Homo sapiens: one gene and its partners. The protein of the gene in region 1 interacts with the protein of each later gene in a pairwise test. Each region holds a gene or a part of one and is shown on either strand. Other genes may lie near its edges.

Region 1 (3,500 bases):
AAGTAGCTGGGATTATAGGTGTGAGCTACTGTGCCCGGCCTACATCCTTTTTTTTTTTTGAGATGGAGTCTCACTCTATCACCCAGGCTGAAGTGCAGTGGCATGATCTCGGCTCACTGCAACCTCTGCCCTCCGAGTTCAAGCGATTCTCCTGCCTCAGCTTCCCGAGTAGCTGGGATTACAGGCATGCGCCACCGTGCCCAGTTAATTTTTGTATTTTTAGTAGAGATGGGGTTTCACTATCTTGGCCAGGCTGGTCTTAAACTCCTGACCTCAGGTGATCCACCCGCCTTGGCCTCCCAGAGTGCTGGGATTACAGGCATAAGCCACCTCACCCCACCTTGTTTTCTTCTTCTTTTTTTTTTTTTTAACAAAAAAGTTCCTTTTCACCTGTTTTCCACATGCATATCTGCAGAAGATTTCATTTCAAGGAAGAGTTTCACAGCTAAAGAGCATTTGAAAACCACTGGTCAGGCCACATGCAGTGGCTCACGCCTGTAATCCCAGCACTTTTGGAGGCTGAGGCGGGCGGATCACGAGGTCAGGAGATCAAGTCCATCCTGGCTAACATGGTGAAACCCCGTCTCTTCTAAAAAAAAATACAGGCCGGGCGCGGTGGCTCAAGCCTGTAATCCCAGCACTTCGGGAGGCCGAGGCGGGAGGATCACGAGGTCAGGAGATCGAGACCATCCCGGCTAACACGGTGAAACCCCGTCTCTACTAAAAATTAAAAAAAAAAAAAAAAAAAAAAAATTAGCCAGGCACGGTGGCGGGCGCCTGTAATCCCAGCTACTCAGCAGGCTGAGGCAGGAGAATGGCATGAACCTGGGAGGCACGCGCCACTGCACTCCAGCCTGGGCACACAACAAGACTCTGTCTCAAAAAAAAAAAGAAAATTTAAAAAAGCAGAATCACGCAGGGCCTTGTAAGCCATATTCCTTTCCATTTTGCCTTAAAGAAATTGAATGATTATTAAATTAATTCATTAGATGAGTATAAAACAGTTCACACAGTGAACAAAAATCAAAAACAAAGCACAATAGATGGCATTAAAACAGAAAAAACCTCTCTCAGATTTGAATAAATTTTACTTAATCTTCAAGCTTAAGTTCAAGTCTCAATCATTTCTATAATCAATACTTACTGAACACCTGCTCCAACAGGCCACTGGGGACATATAGGAAGGGGACAGAGTCCTTGCCCTCCAGGAGCTCCAGGCTCTTGCCAAAGCCTCTCTGACATGCTCAGCTCACCATGGCCTCTCTTATTTCAAAGCCTAACATAGTTCATGCACCACTCACTCACTTTGGCACCTAATCATAATCTGTTTTATATTGTTATCAAATGTTATATGTGTACATTCATTATTTAAAGGAAAATAATATTTTAAGAAAAACTCCTGGGCTGGGCATGGTGACTCATGCCTTACTTTGGGAGGGGGGTTTGTTCAGCATTTTGGGAAGCTAAGGTGGGTGGATCGCCTGAGATCAGGAGTTTGAGACCAGCCTGACCAACATGGTGGAACCCAGTCTCTATTAAAAATAGAAAAATTAGCTGGACATGGTGGCACATGTCTGTAATCCCAGCTCCTTGGGAGGCTGAGGCAGGAGAACTGCCTGAACCCAGGAGGCGGAGGTTGCAGTGAGCCGAGATCGTGTCATTACACTCCAGCCTGGGCAACAAGAGTGAAACTCTGCCTCAAAAAAAGAAAAATTCCTGGAGGACAGAGTTCACGTCATATCTTTTATTTCATTACTATTTGTACTACAAAATGAAGTAAAGAATTGAGTATAGTGTAAAATCTCTAATATTCATTAGAATTCATTCTGCCAAGCAATTTATATATTCTATGTCTCCAAATCTTTAAGTCTGAAAACAGTTTTGAAATGGGCTTGTAAAGAAAAATAAACGTGATGCATGTACACGAAACTTCTGATCAGAAAATAATAAACAAATATGAAGTACTTCTTACCACAATTAAAACACACACACACACACACACACACACACACACACACACACACTTCTGCATGTACTGTGGCACAAAAAGAGGTCAAGAAACTTAAAGAGCAGCCAAAATTATTAAGAGGAGGAACTGAAGGACACTTATAATAGCTAATTATTTTAGGCAATTGGTGACTATGAAAAAAGGTGCAATGAGGCTATCTGCTCAATTAGAATGCTGAAGATAATTTTGGGACCATTTTTCATAGTGAATGAAAAGCTATAGAACAGTAATGCCTTCACTTGAGGCAATTCCAGGAGGCTGAAAACAGGACAGGCTAAAACTACGGAATTTACATTGCTTCAGGAAAGGGGAATTACCTTGGGCTTTATCTAGTCTAATCCTGAACTGCGACAGAGCTAGATGAGGTCTCCCATTGGAGAACTGACATAACTGAAGCCTGAGAGGGTACTGCAGATGAGATCACATGGATTTAATTTGGGAAAATGGAGACTAAGAGGCATGATCATAAATCTAGATTGTAAGTGGCACATACACATTGAACCCAGCTTTTTTTCTCATCCAAACTTGAAACATTTGGCAAAGGATGCCTTTACAAACTTCAGGAAGGCATCTACTTTACTTCAATTTTAAAGGAACGTATTACACAGAGGTGGTATCTCAAAATGACAGAGAACGCGAGCTCTGGAAGTCAGACTGCCTGTGTTCATAACCCAGCTCTACCACCTAGTAGCTCTGGGACCTGGGGCAAATTCCTTAACACTCTACTTCTCAGGTTCTTCAATCAAGAAAATGGAGGCAATAACAGGACTTATCTCACAAAGTTGTGGTGAGGATTATAATGCACGCAAAGTACTCAGAAAAAAAGGGTCTGACACATGGTAAGCTCTCAATAAATAGTGGCTATTAATATACTTCTAGAATTCATCATAAAAATCAGGAAACAAATTGATTTTTTAAAGGTTCAAATGTATTTAGGAATGGGAAATCAATATATGGCTACTTATAGCACTGGGACATACCCAACTTCAAGATTTGTGTTGTCTGAATGGGATGAATCAGTAAGACCATGCCTATTTTCCTTAAGTGTTCAACTCTAGAAAGTAATGACTACTAGCTTTGCTAATTCTTTCTTCATTAATTTTGCAAAAGGTATAAAAGCAATATGGAAAAAAGAGGTAGAGAAGACAGAAGTAGATTAGCACACAAGGTGATTTCCTCAGATCAGAATCTGATGTGCCCAATGAATGGGTGATGTTCCCATGTTTGGCTGAGGCATTCCAGGACTTTACATCTATATAAAAGGGCGGGGAGTGGGAAGGGGGCAGGTCTATTACTCCATCTTCAGTTACAGCACTTTCCCCTTCACCCACTACACTCCACAAAAGCCTTCTTTCAGTTCCAGTATCAGGCCAGACTCTTTCCTGTCTCAGGGCTTTGGCAGGTTGATCTTTCTCCTACCTGGAACACTGTTACTCCCTTACTACCCTCCTGTGGCTACTTCTTCCTCATCCTAAATTCCCACTTTCAAAGT
Region 2 (4,015 bases), on another chromosome or scaffold:
ATAGGCCTGAGTCTTGCTGTAGTAAGTTAGCAACTGGCCTTATAGCATGATGAGGATCTGACATGGATGGTGCTGGGGGTCTAGATATTCTCAATAAAGAATCATTGGTTTGATAGCAGAAGGTCTCCTGGCCAACGGCCTATCATCCCTTTGCTTGTCTTCAACACACTGGGAACATATGGGCTCGAGCTTTTTGCTTGTTCCTTAGCTATCTGTGTGGTGCTCCTCCCTCTCCAGGCAGGTGGATGGAATATATAAAATCCAGACCCTGAAGGCTTCCTAGTAACACAGAATATGCATACAATTTCATATATACATTCGATAAGACATGTACACTCTCACTCATATAAATAATTATTTCCATCTGCATCTAAATAAAAACCAAACACAATTCTCCAAATTTACATGGGACCAAGAATCCAGCTTTTTAGTTGCCTGTATTTGTCCCCTTAAGAATTTTACTACTAACCACCTCCTCTCCCACCTCTTGATTTACAGACGACATTCCCCCTTAATGCTTTGACATAAAGGTGGGCACACAAGAGTGGGTTAGGACATTGAAACAAATCATTCTAAAACTTCTGTTATATTGACATGTAGAAGAGACCAAGTGATATGTGAATAAAAGGCATATTATAAAAAAGAGCTAATTCACATTTAGTTTGGCATGTGCCTATGAAGAGCCTTCCTGGTTAGCCCTACTCCTGCTTCCTAGGACAGAGGAAAATTTTCCCCACCACATGGGAGCACAATTAAATATAGAATCCCAAAATCTAGACTCTATATAAGACCCAAATTTCCAGATCATTAAAAAAATTAATGCGCTCCTTCCTATGGGAGAGACTGCATTCTTATAGGAATGTGGCTTTATCTATGGCTTCAGTAGACCCAACTTTTCATACAAGTCTAACATCCCTATAAGGAACATACACACAGTATCACACGGAAACACACATCCCACATTTAAAAATATGGTTTTTATTTACTTTTTTGTTTTCTTACTAGTTCCATCCAGAGAACTTTGTCCCTGTTTTCTGGAAAATTATTTTATTTTATTGTAGAGCCCTGGACCCCTAAATATGTCCTCCTTCCCCAGCTGGCCCAGGGTGACTGCGAGGATAGAGTTGACATCACAATATCCCTTTTCTGAGGATTCATGCCCCTGGTGGGTGGGGTAGGAGGAGGGGTAGCCCTAGGAGAAGTCATCACCACTTTGTCCACCATGGGTGAATTATGAATCAGTAGCTATGCCAGGCCTCAGCTGGGCCACATCTGGAGAACTGGGGTGAGGGCACAACATCACAAAATATCTGGCCCCAGTCTGGTCACTCATCCCTTTTAGGGCAACAAGGAAACTATCCTGTGGCCTGAGAGCACAATACCTGAGACAAAGGCCAGCAGAAACATTTGTCTGCCCTCACCCTTTCTGCCCCAGCTTCCACCTGCTCCCCATCTGCCCACCCACTAAAGCCCATGTGGCATGCCATCTCTCGAACATCCAGGATGTCCCAGAGTGGATGTCCATCAGGTCTGCTGGCAGACAAAAATATCTCTTCAAGTGCCACTCGAGTGATAGTGAAGACTGCAGGCAACCAGAAAGACTTTATGGTAGCTGATGACATCTCGGTAAGGCAGTTCAAGGAGATGCTATTGGCTCACTTCCAATGCCAGATGGACCAACTAGTGCTGGTCTTCATGGGTTGCCTTCTCAAAGACCATGACACACTGAGCCAGAGGGGCATCATGGATGGCCACACCATCTACTTGGTCATCAAGTCCAAGCAGGGCTCCAGATCTCTAGCCCATTCCTTCCGGGACCTGCCAACGAATGATCCCTGCCACCGGGACAGAAACACCAAAGGAAACAGCAGCAGAGTGCACCAACCAACTGGTATGAATCAAGCTCCAGTGGAACTGGCCCACTTTGTGGGGTCTGATGCACCCAAAGTGCATACCCAAAACTTGGAAGTGAGCCACCCAGAGTGCAAAGCACAGATGCTGGAGAATCCTAGCATCCAGCGGCTTCTGTCCAACATGGAGTTCATGTGGCAGTTCATTTCAGAACATCTAGACACGCAACAATTGATGCAGCAGAACCCAGAAGTTTCCCGCCTTCTTCTTGATAATTCTGAGATCCTATTGCAGACTCTGGAGCTGGCCAGGAACCTTGCTATGATCCAAGAGATAATGCAGATCCAACAACCTTCACAAAACCTTGAGTATCCACTGAACCCACAGCCATATCTGGGCTTAGAGACAATGCCAGGTGGGAATAATGCCCTGGGTCAGAACTATGCTGATATCAATGATCAAATGCTGAACAGCATGCAAGATCCTTTTGGAGGAAACCCTTTCACAGCTCTCCTGGCAGGACAAGTGCTAGAACAAGTCCAGTCTTCACCCCCACCTCCACCACCATCACAGGAACAACAAGACCAGCTCACACAGCATCCTGCAACCCGAGTCATCTATAATAGCTCTGGTGGTTTCTCTTCAAACACCTCAGCCAATGACACCCTTAACAAGGTCAACCACACTTCCAAAGCCAACACTGCTATGATTTCCACCAAGGGCCAGAGCCATATCTGTGCCACTCGGCAGCCAGCTTGGATACCAGCCTTACCTAGCATAGAGCTTACCCAGCAGCTTCAAGAAGAATACAAGGATGCCACTGTTTCTCTAAGTAGCTCCAGACAGACATTAAAGGGTGATCTCCAGCTGTCAGATGAGCAGAGCAGCTCCCAGATCACAGGAGGCATGATGCAGTTGCTTATGAACAACCCCTACCTGGCAGCTCAGATTATGTTGTTCACAAGTATGCCCCAGCTGAGTGAACAGTGGAGGCAGCAGCTGCCCACATTCCTGCAGCAGACACAGATTTCTGATCTGCTTAGTGCTTAGGCAACCCTAAAGCATTCCAAGCAATATTGCAGATTGAGCAGGCCCTCCAGCTGCTGGCCACAGAGGCTCCTGTTCTTCTGCCTTGGGTTGCACCCTACCTATGGGGCCTGGGTTGGCTTCCTGCCCCCAGCTGCAGCTATCCTGACACAGTGCCCTGTTCCTGGAATGTTTCAGATACAGCTGAGCCCAAGGGACCTGAGTGCTGCCACAAGCCTGGAACAGTCCTGCAGAGGCTACAATCCCCGGATGGGGACCCTTCCCACCCTCTGCAAGCTCCTGAGATTTGTTTTAGCAAACAGATGGATTCTCTCCAGGCCATGGGATTTGGGAACCACCATGCCAATCTACAGGCACTCATTGCTACTGAAGGGGACACCAATGCTGCTATCCGCAAGCTCAAGAGATCCCAGAGATTCTAACCACCATGCCTACTTGTTTGCTTGCTACCTGCCTGCTGACCCACCTGACCATCTCATTTGCCTTTTGCACCTTTCCTGATGCTTCCAGCCAGGAGAAGTCCTGGAATAAGAGTTATCAACCAATGTGTCTTGTACTGAATAATAGATCATTGGTCGTGGCTGAAACATCTGTCAATAAAATGGCTACACTCACTTGCTGCGATCTGAGGTTTGGCTTTACTTCTTTTGCAAAAAAAAAAAGAAAAAACTAGCTGTGTGAGATTTTTGTCTCACCTACTATATGTACATTAACACACAAACCACATGCATATATTAATATAGAGATAAAAATAATGTTTTTATCTCTAAAACATGAGCATTTTGAGCATGGTATATGAAACTTGAGCATGGTATATGAAACTGATTATTTTGAGCATGTCACCTTGGACAGGTGTGTGTATGTACACAAGCTCACATAGTAAAAAATTCACATATACAGGCATATAGAGTCCACATATGAGTACACACAGCCATGTGCAAACACAGATGCAAATACCTAGAGACACATAAATAGACCCATATGTAGGGAAAACAATCATAACATGCTCAAACAGAAAGGGAAACATTTTACATAGATAGGCCCAGATATTTAGTCATAAAGACTGCCTGAATTTCTCAAACCCAAATTGTTCAAGTTTGAAAGTGGAACAGGAATA
Region 3 (3,500 bases), on another chromosome or scaffold:
TAGGTACTATAATTAGTAAATAGATTACTGTTAAATAACTTTTTTTAAAAAAAAGTTTCATCTATGCACATAGGCTCTGAGCAGATTTCAGATAGTTCCTGAATAAAAATCAAAATTGACTATCAGTTGCCATTTTATATATGTTAACATATAAAGAAAAAAGAGTCATTTGAGGATGGAAGATCAGCTAAAAAGCAAGTTGTAATATTTATAACAGTTCTGCAGGTGGAGGTGGCAGGGATTCATTAAGATCTTGATCAGAGTTGGGAGGAATAGAGAACTCCTGACACTGGATCTCAAGGTTGGAATCTTCTTGGTTTTTCATAAAATCTACTGGTGGCAGGGGCAAGTTAAGTGAGTCAAGCGGTGGAAATGATTGTATTATCTCAGATTTATGATCTCCACAGTCTTGATTGAGACAGTCCAGAGATGGAGGGAGACTAGTAGAATCATTTGGAAGAGGAGATACAATTGTCATTGTGGGTTTGTCAGATTGGTTACTTTCCTGTCCTTCCAAATCCAGAAGGGGAGGTGGTGGAGGCAGATCTGCATCATCTGAAGAAGAAACAGCAGTTCCAACTGTTGAACCATCAGCACTATCTTCTGATGTACCATTTACTTGATCTTTTATTTTCTCTGTTTTGGGGTTGTTGGAGTCTTCAATGTTTTCACTTGATTCAAACAACTTAATTTCTAAGTCATCTGCTAAAAGTGTGCTTTTGCTTGGTTTCCAGGGTGTAAGTGAAATGATTGATGTACGTTTTGTGGATATTTCATTTTCTCTGATGTTATCCATACAAATGTCAGGGGTTTCTCCATCAGCAAATGGAGATCTACCTGCCCAATTTTGATCATTTAAAACTGGTTTCCTTAAGCATTTCCAAAGTACAATGATGATTATAGCTACCAACATAGAAGTCAGAAGTACACCAATTAGTATGGCAGCTATTGAATTATAATTGTTTTTTTGTGGGGTTTGTTTGTTACTGGTAGTATCTAAGATAAATCCTGGTGTACTCCTAGGTGAATTTTTGACAGTTGATGTTGGTTGTGTGGATGGATTATGAACAGTTATTTGTTTTCTAGAAGGGATCTGGACAGATGATGATTGTTGAGTAAAAGTATAGACAAATGACTTTGGTGGTTGTGTGGTAGAAGTACGGGCAGATGGTAGTTGTCTGGCAGAGGTGAACACGGCTTGCTGGGAGGAGGTGTTGGCTATTGGTGTTGGTTGTTTGGTGTTGTAGGCAAGTGGTTGTCCAGCAGAAGTATGTGCTTCTGGTTTTTCAGAAGAGGTATAGACAGCTGGTGTTGGTTGTCCAGCAGTGACTTTGGCAGGTGATATTGATTGTCCAGAAAAAGTGTCGCTGAATTGTGTTGGTTGACCCAAAGGATTCCCTGTTGTGTTTTGAGAATTAGCCAATACCTGTGACATTGATGATGTGAATAAGGTAGGCTGTGACTGCTTCTCTGTTGTAATTGTCTCTGTCTTTGAAAAAAATGTATTGTTCAGGTGTCCACAAAACAAAATTAAGATGAAATATTTGGGATCCATTTCAGAATATTTCCTCGTTATCTATAGCGGGTTTATAATGAAAGAGAAAGACAGTTAGGCGTCATTGGTGTCTAGTTAAAAATTTGACTTTTCATTATGATTCCTGGCATAAAGTAGGTAGACATTATTCCTAATTAGTAGTAGTTGATTAGTAGTTATTATTCCTAATTTAGACTTGATACACTGTAGGTTTGGTGTAACAACTCTTGGATATACTCTAACCCATCATACAGCATTTGGACCTCATAAGCAGTGATCTCTCTTCTTTTATTAATACAAGTTCTGTACTTGGCTCTGCTGCCCCTCTAGCTTCATTATATTTCAGTACTTCACTTAGTCATACTTCTCAAAACGCATAGGCTCTATATGCTGGATCCATGTGTTCTCTACCTTTTTTCACCATTTTCTACTAGAAATATATTGATTCTCCTGCCTTGAAGAACACCAGTGATCATCTGTTACCTAATCTAATTGTTCTTTATTTCTTCTCTCCCCTCCCCTCCTTGACCACATTAGACACTACTGTTCCTTCACTAATATTCAAGTAGCTTTTTGTAATCAGTCTTCCTTTCATGTTACTCTCACTAGCTCTTTTTCTTCTGCCTCCTAAATATGGTTAATTGATATTCTGTCCTCACCCTTACCTACTTTTCTTTGTTCCTGATTCTGTAAGATTTTAGTTCTCAGCTTTATGCCACAATTCCTAAACCTGTACCTCCAGCCTACATCTTCTTTGTCCTAATTCTATTTGTGTGACTTCTTGGTGGATTTTTCCATATTTTATATATATAGATAGATAGACATAGATATAGATATAAATATCTCCCACTATCAGCAAATTCAACATATTTAAAATGGAGTTCATCTTTACCCTCACAACTGACAACTGACTCTTCTCCCAACTTCTCTGTATCTGTTAATGGTACCACTAAGTTTCTTAGGCACAGAGTCTATTAGTAATCTTTGAAGCATCCTTAGTGTCTCTGTAGCGTGGTAGCCTTATGTTAATATTGCATATTTTTAAAGAATTTCATTCAACTCAGAGTCTTAGGCTTAAAATCCTAGAGTGATCTCTGAATCTGGTGGAGTAAATTCAATCCAGTTGGTCAAGTAGTCCTGCTGCTGCTTTCATTCATCTATTGGTAAATGCCACATTTGTGTGGAGCTCTGTTCTAGGTTTAGGAGATTAAAAAAAAAAAAAAAAGATAGTCACTGCCTTTAAGTGTTTCAGATTCTAGTGATAGAAGCAAACAGTAAAGGCCAGGCGTAGTGGCTCATTCCTGTAATCCCAGCACTTTGGGAAGCCAAGATGGGAGGATCGTTTGAGGCCAGGAGTTCAAGAACAGCATGGACCACATAGTAAGATCCCATCTCTAAATAAAAAGAAGAAAGAAAAAAAGCTAAAAAATAATTACAATAATTTTTTTTTTTTCAAGACAGTCTTACTCTGTCACCCAGGCTGGAGTGTAGTGGCACAATCTGGGCTCACTGCAAATTCCGCTTCCCAGGTTCAACTGATTCTCCTCTCTCAGCCTCCAAGTAGCTGGGATTACAGGTACACATCACCACGCCTGGCCTATTTTTGTATTTTTAGCACAGACGGGGTTTCACCGTGTTGGCCAGGCTGCTCGAGAACTGACCTCAGGTGATCTGCCTGCCTTGGCCTCCCAAAGTGCTGGGATTACAGGTGTGAGCCACCACGCCTGGCCCAATTACAATAATTTGATAAGCTTTCTCATAAAAGTATGCAGGAGATGTACAGAGAAGTTAACCTAGCCTGGAAAGGCTTCAGTGAAGTAAAGCTTGAACTGAATTTTAAAAGTCTATAAAAACTAATTAAGTTTCCAGCCAGGGAGAGCAACAATGTGGGCACAGGAAAATAAGGCACATATGAAAGTTTGGCAGATAGGGCTTTTTCTGGGATGTGGTAGATGCTAAAACTTGG
Region 4 (4,134 bases), on another chromosome or scaffold:
TATCCATGATAATATATAATATTGTTATTATATCCATGATATTATCCATGATAAATCTGAGCAACTTTTAAATAAATTAATTATAAGCCAAATTCTGTTGCTTATATAGAAGTAGATATCAAAAAAATTTTCTCCAAATAGTCATTTCCTTAGATAAACTTTAGTATAATAAGAATGATCTTCTAGAACTAACATGATACCTTTATTAATCTCAGTAATAATAATAAATAATAATAATAAAACCATAACTGTCCAGTCATTAAAATGGCCTTAACATTCTATATCAATTATGGTTAAAAAGAAGGTCTTCTCATTTTCATATTGGAAACATAATTCTCTGAAATTCCCATTGATTGGTTGATTAGTTCAGAACCCTAAAAGTCATTCAGTAAACAGGCAACAAAAGTTTGAGTAATTGCTGCAAGCCTGGCACTGTGATTTGCACATGTTTACACCAGTCTCCCCATGCATTCTTTTTCAAATGACTTTAAAACAATTAATATGAAATTATATATTAATAACAATGTTTTCTGAGTGCTAGTAATGTAAACAAAATTTATTTTTACTAAGTATTTTAAATCCTTAATGTACATGTTGAGGTGTGTATCTTATTCCATTACATTTAATACTATTGAAGTTGGTTATTCATCATAACCATTAAATGCAAAACACAACCCTGATATTTTAACATAAGAAGAATAACTGATTCTTGGGAAAAATGTAAGGCTTTAAATTGAAAAACATGGAATTACCATCTCTTCCAGCCCACTTTTTTCCCCTCACCTTTACATTTTTCTTAAGATAGCACAGAACTTTTATGACATAAAAGATTTAGTTAAGGAAAACGTTAGGAGAGATCTGTTTTTCTGCCTAAGTTGATAAGTCATCAACTTAATACAAGCTCATTATGACTCAAATGAATAAGGATACCACAGATTCCCTTCTATTTTATCATTATACACAATTGCAAAGGAATGCATATCTTAGCACAGATTAAGTATTTTAATTTACATCATGAAAATATTATTTCAAAGAAAATCAAATTAATAAAAATAATTTCCCTACTCTTTAAACTAGTGATAAATAGCTTTTAGTGATAATTTATGAAGTTCTAAATTAGATATCTTAATGAGTTTTGCTTAGACAATATTAAGTCACATTTTGGTGTGAATAATATTATTTACATTTTGCTTAACTTATGAGCATTTTCAGGACAAGGAGTATATATTTTCAAATTGGCTTGGATTATCAGGTCCAACTATAATGTAAGTAGATTTGCCCTGTTAAAAGAGATATTTTTAGGGGCATAGTTCAACATAGTTCAATTTAGAGAAATTAGGTGACATTTTATTTAATTTTTTTTCCAAGAAGCAAAAGGAAGATGAGAAAACATATCACCTGAAAATTGATCCATTAACAGATTGCTAAGGTTCATGAGCAGTACTTAAAATTACTTACTGTAATTATTCTTCATCTCTTGGGTCCCTTTTACTTTGCCTCTTTTATCGATCCTCAGGTACCACTGTGTTCGACAGAAGAGTCTTCTCACTCTTATATCCCCTCCTTCCATGTAATCATAACTTCTTGTGTGTCGCTCAGGGCTGGAACAGTTCACATTTGTAGCCATTTGCTCTGGAGTCATGTCATTGCAAGCTAAAGATATAGTACCCACTAGACAGATAATGTGAAAGCATGATCTGTAGAGCAAAGTTGGCAGGATCCATGTCAGTATCCATTTGTGCATTATAGTGTAGTGCTCCGGGTGTTCATGAATAACATAATGAAAATGAATCTTGAGTTGATTGTTACTCCTAGGTCATTGACCTCTTCCTATCTGTGAATTGTAGATTGATTTAAGAAAGAGTAGTTGCTCTTTCCAAATTGTTAGCCTTATCCTTTTAGTTCCTGATAACAACACAGGATTCCTCCTTAAATAACTCTGTTGATAAATCCTCATAAAAACAGTTCGTAGTAAGTTCAGTTGCTGTGACGCTGTTTGCTATTTGACTTCTGTTTGCAATGAGAGATTAAGAATAGGGAGGGGAGGAGAGAGGAAGATAAAAAATTGTATGTGTAAATTTTAGTGGGTAAGTAGTAGCATTAGAATACAGTATAGGTTATTCTTTGAAGATACATTTAAAACAGCCTTCACAGAGGATGTCAAAATCTTTACCACTTTATGTGTAGATTTATAAAATTTATGCATGAGTAGAGACAAAACAGAATATGACTGTACCATTCATTCCAATTGCTATTTTGTGAGAACCATACTGCACTCAGAACTATTGATTTAAATTAAGTTTTTACAATTACTGCTAACAAAGTGTAACTGCTTTCTCCCTAGACTTCTTTATTATATGCTTTTACATTTGTGGTTAATCAATTATTTTCTCCTGAACTGCCCAGGTTTTTTAAGTTAAATGTCAGGATTGCTCTGGAGAACTTCAACCTTATCTTTATGTTCTACAGCATAATTACTATAGTTACATGGCTCAAAAATCTTGTAACTTTACTTTCCTGCTCAGTACTAAAATCAGAAAAAGAGATAAACTTTTAGAAAACATTCAGCATTGTTTTAAAAGACAAATAACAGTAACTTACTTGTTTTGTTGCTAACAGCTGGATATATAAGAATTCCATGTCTGTTGTCTGCCTGGTGCAACTTGAGCCTTTCTACTGTAGCTACAAACTATTTCTCAGCTGAAAAGTTCTCCAGCAGAATCATAATTGTTTCCATAAATCAACAGGCAGAAGGATTTTCTCTCTGTGTGTGAGCGCGTGTGTGCTTGTGTGTGTGTGTGAGCCTTTTATTCAGGGCTTTTCGATAAATACCTTTGCTGACCTCATTGGAAGCAATTAAAACTTAGCCAGTGAGCTGTTAGTTGAATACAACAGCGAGAATAAAAGGAGGCTTGTATAGTATTCAATGGTCATGAGAGGGAGCTATGAACATGTTTTATGCTTAAATCTACAAGTGGGTACCTACTTTGTAGAAACAGATCTCTGGTTCTGAAGCAGTTAGAAGGGGAAAGGGAATTTTTTAAACCTTCTTTGCAATATAGCAGTTGTATTATACTTGGAAAATTATTCATTTGAACATATATATAGGGTTTTTTAATACTTAGAAAATCTTTTCCATAGCTTTATGATACATGCATTTCTTCAATTACTTCTTTGTGCTCAGAATGTTAGAACAAAACTGGTATGTGTTAACTAACATATGAGTGCCTTAAAGCACTGTGTAGATAAGTTGAATATTATCACATCATACAGAGACAATTCATTGAATATGAATATAAGTACAATTTTTATGTATTATATTCCTAGGCTGAAAGTGAGAAGATCTAGATTCTTATTTGTGTTGGACCACTAATGACCAGTATGACTTCGGGCAAGTTACCTGCTGTTCCAGAGTCTCAGCTGCTACATTTGTAAAATTGGTGTATTGGTCTAATGCCTCTATGGTGCTTTACAATTCTGTGATCTGTGACTTATACTCACTACTAATATAAGGAACAGGGCACCTACTTTTAAAAGCTGTTATTCTTTAAAAAGGAGGAAATGGTTTCACATTGATTATCAGTGTTTGATTTTTGCCTCAATAAGAATATTGGAACAATAAATGTTAATTTAGAGATGGAATTATAATATGTATTGCTAAGGTAAATAAGTGAAAGCTATTTTACTTTCCAGCATGAGTTCTCTCCTTTACTTCCTGTTCTGTTATACATGAAGTAGTGCTCAAGTGTTGTATTAGATTCTTGGTGTAGAATAATTGTGTTGTCTATCTAAATCAGTATTAAGAAAGTATATTAAAATTATCTTTTTCATGTTATATACTCCTCAAAACACACACGCGTGCACGCGCGCGCGCGCGCACACACACACACACACACTCTCTCTCTCTCTCTCTCTCTCTCTATGTGAAATGCACTACTTTACCACCAGGTGGTGCATGTAGACCAAATAGGAAAAGGAAATTAAATCTACTCAACTGGATTATAGTTTATGTGATTTCTCTTTGTATCTGTCCCTTTAGGGAACAGAATGAAGAGCACAGAATAGTTCAGATGTACCCAGTTACTCTTCATATGCCAAATGTTGAATGTTCCACATTTATTAAAGCAGAGGGGG
Region 5 (3,500 bases), on another chromosome or scaffold:
TCACCTTTGGCTGACCTTTAAGCTCTGCACACACAAACATTGTGCATATCTATATTTACAGATATACATAAAACTATAAATATTTATAGATATAGAGATACATATAAATATATATGTATTTATAGATATAGAGATACATATAAGTATATATGTATCTATATTTATAGATATACATGCACAATGGACTATTATTCACCCATAAAAAGGAATAAAATGTGGATGAACTTTAAAAACATTATGCTAAGTGAAAGAAGCCCAAGGCCAAATATTGTGTGATTCTATTCCATGAAAATCCAGAATAGGTAAATCCATATAGACCGAAAGAAGATTTGTAGTTGTCAGAGGCTAAGGGGAGAGAGAATGGAGAGTGATTTGCTTGTTGGGTATGTAAGGGATTTATTTTTGGGAAAAGTTTTTCAACTAGATAAACATGGTAGTTCACAACGTTTGAAGGTTCTAAACATCATGAAATTGTTTACTTTTAAAGGTTCAAATTTTGAATTGTACCTCAGCTAAGAAAAGGAATAGGAAATAAATATATTGTAGCTCAATATACAGTATTTATACCTACTTTAATTAATGTTTACTGCCATGTACATGATTCCATGTTTACCTACCAAAGCCGCCTTAATTTTTCTAAGGTGTCATTGCAATGATACCCAACACAGTGACAGACATTACAGATAGGGAGACAATAAAATATGAGGTAAAGCTACAATATCTATTAGTTTGGGAAATATACCTGTAAAACAGACAGATAAGCCAAATGAAGACAGTGTCAATAAGTAGAACATAAAATATATAAAATTTTCACGTATGATAAAGGAGGAAATACGAACTAGTAGATTAGAAAAAAATCCTTTTATAATAATTATACATTTATCTGGAAAGTCATAATATATCATCTCATACAATAAAACAAATGTCAAAATGATCAGTTAAGTATCAAAAAGTTAAACTTAAAAGTAAAGAATAGAACTTCATCAGGGTGGAAGTATTGGAGGGTCCCCTGCCAGCAAAGATCACCTATCCACTCTAAGAGGGAGTTAAGACTGGCGGTTTGGGGATAGCACCAAGAGATATCAGCTGTGATGGCTTGGAAAAACAGTGTAAACCGGCAGTGTAAACAAGAGTAGGGCATTTATAAGTAGTTGAGAATGGTGAATAGGAGTATGACTAGACAGAAGATAGTAGGGATGACTAGTTTTTGGGGCTCGGTCCAAGTAGTGGGGGTAACTTCGTAAAGCCCTGTTGCAAAAAGTAGGGTAAGGACAAACAGACCTAATAGAATGAAGGGATCATTCCCATTCTTATGTCACCCTCTACCTCTCCCCAGCTATCTCCACCACACTACCAACGTTACTTATTCTCTCCTAGCCATTTCTAATCTCTCCTTATTGAACAACTGCTGGCTTTGCATTTCCCTTTCTTCCAGCGCCTACACAGCTGCCCCCACCTTACATGTAGACTGGGCAACATCTGTCTCCCTATACCTCTGAACTTCCTTTAACAGCCCTCACCTTTACCCTCCTGAAGAACTCATTTACTTTCTAGACAGGTCCAGCAAGACCTCCCCAGACATTTCATATCAGCAAGCTGCCGCCCTCCTCCACACTTACTTAAAAAACCTTTCTCCTTATATCAACTCTACTCCCCCCATATTTGGACCTCTCACAACACAAACTACTATTCCTATTCCTGTGGCCACTCCTTTATGTATCTCTCGGCAAAGACCCACTGGAATTCCCCTAGTAACCCTTCACCTTCTCCATGTTCCTTTACTCTTCATCTCCAAAGTCCAGCTATGCATGTCACCGAAACAATTGGAGCCTTCCAGCTCCGTATTACAGAAAAGCCCTCTATCAATACTGGCAAACTTAAAAATATTAGCAGTAATTATTGCTTAGGAAGACACTTACCCTGTATTTCACTCCATCCTCGGCTACCTTCCCCTTGCTCATCAGACCCTCCTCCCAGGCCCTCTTCTTGTTTACTTATACCCAGCCCCGAAAATAACAGTGAAAGGTAGCTCATAGACACTCAACATTTTCTCATATACCATGAAAATCGAACCTCCCCCTCTACGCAGTTACCCCACCAGTCCCCATTACAACCTCTGGTGGCTGCCGCCCTAGCTGGATCCCCAGGAGTCTGGGTACAAGACACCCCTTTCAGCACTCCTCATCTTTTTACTTTGCATCTCCAGTTTTGCCTCGCACAAGGTCTCTTCTTCCTCTGTGGATCCTCTACCTCCATGTGTCTACCTGCTAATTGGACAGGTACATGCACACTAGTTTTCCTTACTCCCAAAATTCAATTTGCAAATAGGACCGAAGAGCTCCCTGTTCCCCTCATGACACCAACACGACAAAAAAGAGTTATTCCACTAATTCCCTTGCTTGTTGGTTTAGGACTTTCTGCCTCCACTATTGCTCTCGGTACTGGAATAGGAGGCATTTCAACCTCTGTCACGACCTTCCATAGCCTCTCTAGTGTCTTCTCTGCTAGCATCACAGACATATCACAAACTTTATCAGTCCTCCAGGCCCAAGTTGACTCTTTAGCTGCAGTTATCCTCCAAAACCACCGAGGCCTTGACTTACTCACTGCTGAAAAAGGAGGACTCTGTATATTCTTAAATGAAGAGTGTTGTTTTTACCTAAATCAATCTGGCCTGGTGTATGACAACATAAGAAAACTCAAGGATAGGGTCCAAAAACTTGCCAACCAAGCAAGTAATTATGCTGAACGCCCTTGGACACTCTCTAATTGGATGTACTGGGTCCTCCCAATTCTTAGTCCTTTAATACCTATTTTTCTCCTTCTTTTATTCGGACCTTGTATCTGCCGTTTAGTTTCTCAATTCATCCAAAACCGTATCCAGGCCATCACCAATCATTCTATACAACAAATGCTCCTTCCAACAACCCCACAATATCACCCCTTACCACAAAATCCTCCTGCAAGTTGACCTCTCCCACTCTAGGTTCCCACGCCACACCTAATCCCGCTCGAAGAAGCCCTGAGAAACATCGCCCATTATCTCTCCATGCTACCCCCCGCACCCAAATTTTTTTTTCGCTGCCCCAACACTTCAATACTATTTTATGTTATTTTTCTTATTACTGTAAGAAGGCAGGACTGTCAGGCCTCTGAGCCCAAGCTAAGCCATCGCATCCCCTGTGACCTGAACGTATATACGCCCAGATGGCCTGAAGTAACTGAAGAATCACAAAAGAAGTGAAAATGGCTTGTTCCTGTCTTAACTGATGACATTCCACCATAAAAGAAGTGAAAATGGCCAGTCCTTGCCTTAACTGATGGCATTACCTTGTGAAAGTCCTTCTCCTGGCTCATCGTGGCTCAAAAAGCTCCCCCACTGAGCACCTTGTGACCCCCACTCCTGCCTGCCAGAGAATTACCCTCTTCGACTGTAATTTTCCTTTACCTACCCAAATCCTATAAAACGGCCTCACCCCTATCTCCCCTTCGCTGACTCT
Region 6 (4,123 bases), on another chromosome or scaffold:
GCTTTTAAAGCTTCTGCTCAGATGTGCTGCACATCACACTCCTCACGCTGTTGTGGGCAAAGCAAGCCACAGGCCAAGCCTGGTAGTGGATCAGCTCCCTCAAGTCTCATGGCGATGGGCGAGTGTATCTGCTGTTACTGAGAAAAGAGAGGGGTAAATAGTTGTGACAGATGATACAAATGTGCACACCTCAGCTGACACAACTCCAGTGGAACAGGCTGTCTGTTGTACTGGAACCAATGTGAGCTTTTGGATTTTCGTCGTCTGTGCATGAGAGAGATTCCACTGGACACCAAGCTTATCCACAGCCTCCATCCAGAGATATCTGGATTTAATGAACACCCAGTCACTGCCTGCAAACAGGAGATACTGAGTTTCCAGTACATAAGAACTCCTAGATGCATGAATACCTAAGAAGAAATTAAATGTGAAGATCTGATCAGAAACATAGTGGAACCAGTGAACACTGGCCAAAAGAAAAAAAAAGTCCCATTCCACTGCCTGGACAATAGCAGGAAGGAATTCCTTATAGTTTCATGCCCTGTATTGGCTTTAGAGTCATTAATGAACAGTATCTATGTCGTATGATCCATGAAGTAGTGAGAATTGTTCACACCTGAAACCATTTTCCTACTGGCTACAGAAACGTTACCATCATATGATTTATTATTAAGTGTTGTTTTCCTTGTCAACATTTTGTGGTTTAACAGCCCACCTAAGTGTGAATCAGTTATCAACTGGCTTTCTTATTGAAAAGACAGACGAGGCTGCATGAAAATGCTTAGCACATGGGTAGGAAGCAGTGGATGAAAATAGCAGAAGTGGGACCCAGAAGATGAACTCTTTTACATTTGATTATTCAGATTATATGTAAGTTCCCATCCTGCTGAAATCTCTTCAGCAGCAAGTTAACCTCCAACCTAAGAAAGATGGAAGAAATCAAGAGTTGAAGATGGAGGGGACAGGGACAGTCTCTGTATCTGTGTGCTCCCTGAGGTGGGGGCCCCTGCCTCTCCCATCTTTGCACTCCTCATGCCTACTGTGTACCTGGTGCAGACCAGCTGCCCTGAAATGTTTGAGGTGCTGTGTTACCATTGCCTCTTTTGATTGCCCACCGAGTGCCTCCTGAGTCATGCACCCCATCACAGCCCTCACGCAAGGCCTGGAGACAAACCCAGCACACACCGGCCTAGTATTAATTCATAACCATCATCATGTACCTAAGATTCTACCTACCTGGATGTTGATTGATGAAATTTATAAAGTATTAGAAGGACTTCAAATCGACTTACAACTATCACATATGAAATGCACAAAACCAGCTTTTAAAGCCTTCTATAATTTGTTTAAGACTGAAGAACTTTAAGACCATTACTTTTATTTATTTATTTGTTTGTTTGTTTGTTTGTTTGTTTGTTTTTTGAGGGACAGAGTCTCGCTCTGTCACCCAGCCTGGAGTGCAGTGGCACAATCTCGGCTCACTGCAAGCTCTGCCTCCCGGGTTCACACCATTCTCCTGCCTCAGCCTCCCAAGTAGCTGGGACTACAAGTGCCCGCCACCACGACTGGCTAATTTTTTGTATTTCTAGTAGAGATGGGGTTTCACTGTGTTAGCCAGGATAGTATCAATCTCCTGACCTTGTGATCTCCTCGCCTCGGCCTCCCAAAGTGCTGAGATTACAGGCATGAGCCACTGCACCCGGCCCTAGACCATTACTTTTAAAATGTAAAAAAAAAAAAAAAAAAAAAAAAAAAAAAAAAAAAAAAATGGAAAAAGGAAAAGGAAATAAAGAAGCAGCAGTGGGGATCAAGACAGAGGAAGGAGATGCTACCTGCCTGCTCCCATCCATCTCCTCTTCACAGTCAGAAACACTAAGAGGAACCCTGTGCTACAGGAGAAGACATTCCAGAAATTTTGTCTTAGGACTTTAACCTTTCCGATATATGACTGGGTCATAAACTTCCTTTTCAGAAGCTATTGATCACCCCATCACCTCTGCAAATGGGGTGTCTATAAATGCCATCTGTTGCCTGCACATTGGCTACTGGTTCATGAATGGTTAAATTTGTTGCAACTTTTGCTTCTGTCCTGTAATGAAGGAAAAGAAACTTTCTTCTAGGAGTGCAGTATCAAATTTGTCTGGGTAGGTTGAGTTTGTAGGTGTTGCAGGTGCACCTAGGCTTAAAGCATTTGGAGGTATCCTTGCATCTGTGTTAAGAGGCTCTCTCTGTAGGGGAGAGATCATTGACTCATTGGCCTGTATACTGATGTAATGTCAAGGGGAGGGCCCAGTACCTTTTCTGAAAGGGGCAGCTCTTCCTCAGATTGGGAATTGGAATTGGGAGGTTGTCTTGGCCAGAACTGAGAAAGAAAGAGCTCTGGATTGACGTCTCATCTTAAACTTCGTAGAATCTGGATTTGAGAGACAGAGCACTCACAGGAGATTGGGGCAAAAGAGTGCTTTGTAGGACCATACCTGTGCAGTGATACGTCTCTCTCATAACCCAAAGTTAAAGACCCATAAACTCACTGTGGTAAGTGCTTTCTTCTGCAGCAAATTCCCCTTGAATATCCGTCCCATTCCTGCAGAGTCTTGTTTAAATGTTCCCAGCTGTGCTATAGGGAATCGGGGAGGAGCTGTGGACACATACTGGTCCATGTGGGGGCTGCGGCGGTGACCAGTGAGAGGTCTCCTTGATGACAGCGACTCTGAGGACACAGAGCTGGTGCTATAAGACCTGGTAACTAAGTTCCCAAGGAGCTTTTCTCTTCTTTGCCAACCTTGAAGATCTGGGTATTATTTTATGAAGCTGGATGGAATCTTCCCACATGTAGAGTTCTCAGGTCCAGGTATTATTTTATGAAGTCGGATGGAATCTTCCCGCACATGGAGTTCTGAGGTTTCTCAGGTTGCTCTCTGGCTCAGTGATGCTGTGTGAGAATGTTCAACCATATCTCCACAGCACAAGCTTTGGATCTGATGTCAAGAAGCTTTTGTGAATATTAAAAATGAACCGCATCTCCCTGAATCAAAATAAATACTACTATATGCACTTCAATGGAAATAAAATCTGGGATTCTTTTTGGGCCCTAAGCAAAATGTAGAAATTCATTTTCCCATCAGACTTTTCAGTAACTTTCTTTTAACCTAATGAGACACTCCACAGGAGACTAACATTTCTTTCGCTGAATTCCAAGTGTAGGTTTCCTGGGTTGTCCATTTAATTGTTAAAGTGAGAGAGATTCTGCTGGAAGACAAGCACCATGGAACAGCAGGAGGAAAGCTGAATGGAGGTTACTTGGGAGCTACCCCAGGAAGAAGCGCTGTGCAGACCATCATCGCAGGGTGGAGAGTAGCCATGAGACGTGTGTGGTGGCCTCTGGATGCTGCTGTGCTGCCTCATGGGAATTTTCACAGATCTTCCACTGTTTGTAAATGGTGCCCAATGAGCGGAAAATTAAGTGGTACTTAACACACACACGTTCACCAAATACTTGCAGCGTTATCCCCATAGTGTGGATGGCTTTTGACAAGGTGCCTGATGAAGAGAGATGCACATAGTTGTGAGTCCCAGCCTACAGAAGCTCATGATGGGTGCTCCACAGTGTTGGTGTTGAGTAAAAATGCCCAGGACAGTATGCACTGTGCTTGACGCACAGTATGACTAAGAAAATACCTGTTATTATGTGAACAGTGACCATATGCACAGCATACAAATCAGTAGCCCAGTGCTGTTCTGATGGTCTTGTCCTGAGTGGTTTTTCCCATCTAGTTGGAGACAAGACTCATTCTCTAGAAAGAAGAGCAAAAAATGGTGGGTCCCACCAAGGCCATGGACAAGGGAAAGGCAGAAACGTGCAGAGGGAGCAGAGACAGAGGAGGCTTGAGACCTGTGTGGAGGGACAGGAAGGGAGCTCGGAAGCCCGTTTTGTAGCAGATCCCAAATTGTGAAAGTTGATAGTTGTGGAGCACACATATGCAGAGTAACATCTAGAATTCTCAGAGTTGGTGATTTAAAGAAAAGAGAAAAAAAAAACACTGACTAAAAATTAATCTTCAATTTCCCACAGGCCTTAAACTTCCAGCTGCTAAAAGACAGTGGGGTGTAGGGGGTGGAAAGA
Region 7 (3,500 bases), on another chromosome or scaffold:
CCTCCAGCCCCGCTTCACAAGCTCAGGGCTTTACGGGAATTATCGTATTTAAAGCTCGCAGCCAGCCTGGGAGAGAGTTGCTGTTTTCCTGACTTGAGGACCCCAGCCCCATGGGAGGGGTTAAGTTCTGTGGCCAGTGTCACACCACCTGGTCAGTGGTAGAGCCCATCAAGACCTCAGGTCTGGCCGACTCCATGTCTCGTGCTGTCATTCCACCTCCTGTGCAGAGCACAGCCCACGAAGCTGCTGCTTGAAGCCTTCTGGGTGATCTTTGAGTAGTTTTTTAAAAATATAGCAGCTTTATTAAGATATAATTTGCATTCCCTATGATTCACCCATAGAAAATTTACAATTCATGGGTTCTGAGTATATTCACAAAGTTATGCAGCCATCACCACAGTCAATTTCAGAACATTTTTATTGGCACAAAAGAAACCGTGTATCCCTTAGTTCTCTCTTCAGTCCCCACAGCCCTAGACAGCCAACTGCTAATGTACTTTGTGTCTCTTGATTTGCCTAATCTGGACAATTTCCTGTCAATAGAATCATATATGTGTGGCCTTTTGTGTCTGACTTTTTTTTTTTTTTTTTGAGAGGGCATCTCGCTCTCTCACCCAGGCCAGAGTGCAGTGGCGCGATCTCAGCTCACTGCAGCCTCTGCCTCCCAGGTTCAAGCGATTCTCCTGCCTCAGCCTCCCGAGTAGCTGGGATTACAGGCACCCACCACCACACCTGGCTAATTTTTGTATTTTTAGTAGAGACGGGGTTTCATCATGTTGGCCAGGCTGGTCTTGAACGGCTGACCTCAAGTGATCCACCCACCTCGGCCTCCCAAAGTGCTGGGATTACAGGCGTGAGCCACCACGCCCGGACTGTCTGGTATCTTTGACTGAGTATGAATACCTCAGGGCTCATCGGGGTTGCAGCATGTGTCTGTACTGCATTCCCTTTAATGGCTGATTAATCCATCCTGTGGATAGACCACATGTGGATTATTCATCATCAGTTGATGGGCATTTGGAGTGTTTCCATGTTTTGGCTATTATGAATAATGCCGTATGAACATGAAGCTTTTGTGTGGTCATATGTTTTCATTTCTCTTGGTTAATACCTAGGAGTGGAACTGCTGGGTTATATGGTAATCTATATTTAACCTATTGAGGAACTCCCAGACTTCTTCCAAAGTGGCCATACCATTTTCGACTGCCACCAGTAGTTTATGAGGGCTCCAGTTTCTTCACATCCTTGCCAACTCTTGATACTACCTTTTTCATGATACCCTTCCTAGCAGGTGTGGAGTGGCAGCTCGTTGTTTGGGTTTGCATTTCCCTAATAACTGTGATATCCCTGATGATATTCAGCATCTTTTCACATGTTTCATTGGCCATTTGTATATCTTCTTTGAAGAAATGTCTATTTGGGTCCTTTGCTCATTTTTTAATTGAGTTATTTTTATTATTGAATTGTAAGAGTTTTTAAAATCTATTTTATTAAAGATATATGATAATGGATATATGATTTGCAAGTTTTTTTTCCCAATTCTGTGGGGTTTTTCACTTTCTTGCTGGTGTTTAGTTGAAGCACAGAAGTTCTTAATTTTGACAAAATCCCCATTTTATTTATTTTTTCTTTTGTTGTGTGTTCTTGGTATTATATCTAGTAACACTTTGCCTGACCCAAGATCTTGAAGATTTACTGTTACATTTTCTTCTCAGAGTTTTATCGTTCTTAGTTCTTACGTTTAAGCCTGTGATTCATTTTCAGTTAATTTAATTATTGCATATGGTGTGAGGTAGAGCTCCCACTTCATTCTTGTGTGTGTGCGGTTATCAAGTTGTCTCAGTAATCACTTGTTGAAAGAAAGACTGCTTTTCCCCCACTGAATTGTCTTGGCACCTTTGTCAGAAATCAGTGTGCTGTAAGTATGAGGGTTTTTAGTGAGCCTGAGTGTTTTAGTGAGCCTGAGTCCCTTGGCTGTGAATGTCCCCTATGCTTCTCTTCAGTACCCACTCCCTACCCCAGTGGGACAAAGTGGCTGGAATGGGCTGGAGTTGAGTAGCTTCCTTCTCCCACGTGGAAGTCTAGAGCTTACTGGAGTTGGGTGTTTCATTCCCCCAGGTCAGTTAGGCTCAGATAATATGCCCGCAGGAGCTCTGGGTAATGCGCTCCTCGTGAGGGCCGGCCTGGTTAAGGAGAATAGAGCACTCTGGCCTGTTTCAGAATGGTTCCTTTCCCCGCCACACTGCTGGAAGCACAAGCCGATTTTTCTCTGATGTTCACTGAGAGCCTTTCTCTAATATTCACTGAGAGCCTGGTTGAGCTCCTAGGGGTAAAACTCATAAGTATGGGAGTCCCTTATGACTGGGGCAGGTTTTTTCTTTTTCTTTTTTTTTTTTTTCTTTTGGTGTTGGAGTTTTGCTTTTATCGCCCAGGCTGGAGTGCAATGGCGCAATCTTGGCTCACCACAACCTCTGCCTCCCGGGTTGAAGCAATTCTCCTGCCTCAGCCTCCCGAGTAGCTGGGATTACAGGCATGCGCTACCACACCTGGCTAATTTTGTATTTTTTAGTATATCGGGGTTTCTCCATGTTGGTCAAGCTGGTCTTGAACTCCCGACCTCAGGTGATCAGCCCGTCTCAGCCTCCCAAAGTACTGGCATTACAGGCATTAGCCACCACGCCTGGCTGGGGCAGGTTTTTAACTCTCAGACTCATCCACACTGAGCCTCAAACAGTTCATAAATGACAGGGTCAGGCTCTCCCACCCTGACACCAGTTCCCGTGGTGATGTCTGCCCAAGCCTGTCCTGGTGAGCCGGGACTCTCTGTATTGGGCTGTCTGTCTCCAGGCTTAAGGACAGTGATTTACACTCTGTCCTCACCTCTCCTATGGATCCAAGAAGAGCTGATAACTTTTCAGTCTGTTTAGTTTTTTACTTGTTAGGACTAAGTGGTGACTTTTAAGCTTCTCACGTGAGGAACAGAAAACTGGAAGTCTTCTAATACAGATGCTTGAAGGTGTACATTTCTTCTAAGCACTGCTGGAGCTGCTTCCCATAAGTTTTGGTATGCTGTGTTTTTGTTTTGTGGCAAAGCATTTTCTTTTTTTTTTTTTTTTTTTTGAGAGACAGTCTCGCTCTGTCGCCCCAGGCTGGAATGCAATGGCATGATCTTGGCTCACTGCAACCTCCACCTCCCAGGTTCAAGCGATTTTCCTGCCTCAGCTGGAAATCACCTCCTTGCCTCACCTCCCAAGTAGCTGGAATCACAGGTGCCTGCCACCACACCTGGCTAATTTTTGTATTTTTAGTAGAGATGGGGTTTCACCATGTTGGCAAGGCTGGTCTCAAACTTCTGACCTCTGGTGATCTGCCTGCCTCGGCCTCCCAAAGTGCTGGGATTACAGGTGTGCGCCACCGCGCCTGGCTGTCCAAGCATTTTCTAATTTGTGTTGTGGTTTATTGTTGGACTCACTGGTTATTTAGGAGTGTGTTGTTTAATT

The links.
Region 2: the proteins of DESI1 (region 1) and UBQLNL interact in binary tests that used the Homo sapiens proteins (3 or more experiments, as listed by UniProt).
Region 3: the proteins of DESI1 (region 1) and EVI2B interact in binary tests that used the Homo sapiens proteins (3 or more experiments, as listed by UniProt).
Region 4: the proteins of DESI1 (region 1) and FGF7 interact in a two-hybrid assay, tested with the Homo sapiens proteins (one large-scale study listed by BioGRID and IntAct).
Region 5: the proteins of DESI1 (region 1) and KLRF1 interact in a two-hybrid assay, tested with the Homo sapiens proteins (one large-scale study listed by BioGRID).
Region 6: the proteins of DESI1 (region 1) and SMIM21 interact in binary tests that used the Homo sapiens proteins (3 or more experiments, as listed by UniProt).
Region 7: the proteins of DESI1 (region 1) and GOLM1 interact in binary tests that used the Homo sapiens proteins (3 or more experiments, as listed by UniProt).

The regions. Positions count from the first base shown.
Region 1 is NC_000022.11:41,614,544-41,618,043, forward strand, and holds part of DESI1 (desumoylating isopeptidase 1), read right to left. Parts: intron 1-3,500. UniProt on the Homo sapiens protein: Protease which deconjugates SUMO1, SUMO2 and SUMO3 from some substrate proteins. Has isopeptidase but not SUMO-processing activity. Desumoylates ZBTB46. Collaborates with UBQLN4 in the export of ubiquitinated proteins from the nucleus to the cytoplasm.
Region 2 is NC_000011.10:5,513,900-5,517,914, reverse strand, and holds UBQLNL (ubiquilin-like protein), read left to right. Parts: upstream 1-1,215; 5' UTR 1,216-1,473; coding exon 1,474-2,901; 3' UTR 2,902-3,522; downstream 3,523-4,015.
Region 3 is NC_000017.11:31,304,055-31,307,554, forward strand, and holds part of EVI2B (protein EVI2B precursor), read right to left. Parts: intron 1,577-3,500; 5' UTR 1,556-1,576; coding exon 209-1,555; 3' UTR 1-208. UniProt on the Homo sapiens protein: Required for granulocyte differentiation and functionality of hematopoietic progenitor cells through the control of cell cycle progression and survival of hematopoietic progenitor cells.
Region 4 is NC_000015.10:49,421,908-49,426,041, reverse strand, and holds the start of FGF7 (fibroblast growth factor 7 precursor), read right to left. Parts: upstream 2,801-4,134; 5' UTR 2,602-2,800; intron 2,011-2,601; 5' UTR 1,745-2,010; coding exon 1,459-1,744; intron 1-1,458. UniProt on the Homo sapiens protein: Plays an important role in the regulation of embryonic development, cell proliferation and cell differentiation. Required for normal branching morphogenesis. Growth factor active on keratinocytes.
Region 5 is NC_000012.12:9,833,981-9,837,480, reverse strand, and holds part of KLRF1 (killer cell lectin-like receptor subfamily F member 1), read right to left. Parts: intron 1-3,500. UniProt on the Homo sapiens protein: Functions as an activating receptor involved in immunosurveillance upon binding to various ligands displayed at the surface of myeloid cells.
Region 6 is NC_000018.10:75,424,904-75,429,026, forward strand, and holds the start of SMIM21 (small integral membrane protein 21), read right to left. Parts: upstream 2,801-4,123; 5' UTR 2,661-2,800; coding exon 2,532-2,660; intron 1,759-2,531; exon of another isoform or gene 1-1,758.
Region 7 is NC_000009.12:86,037,059-86,040,558, reverse strand, and holds part of GOLM1 (Golgi membrane protein 1), read left to right. Parts: intron 1-3,500.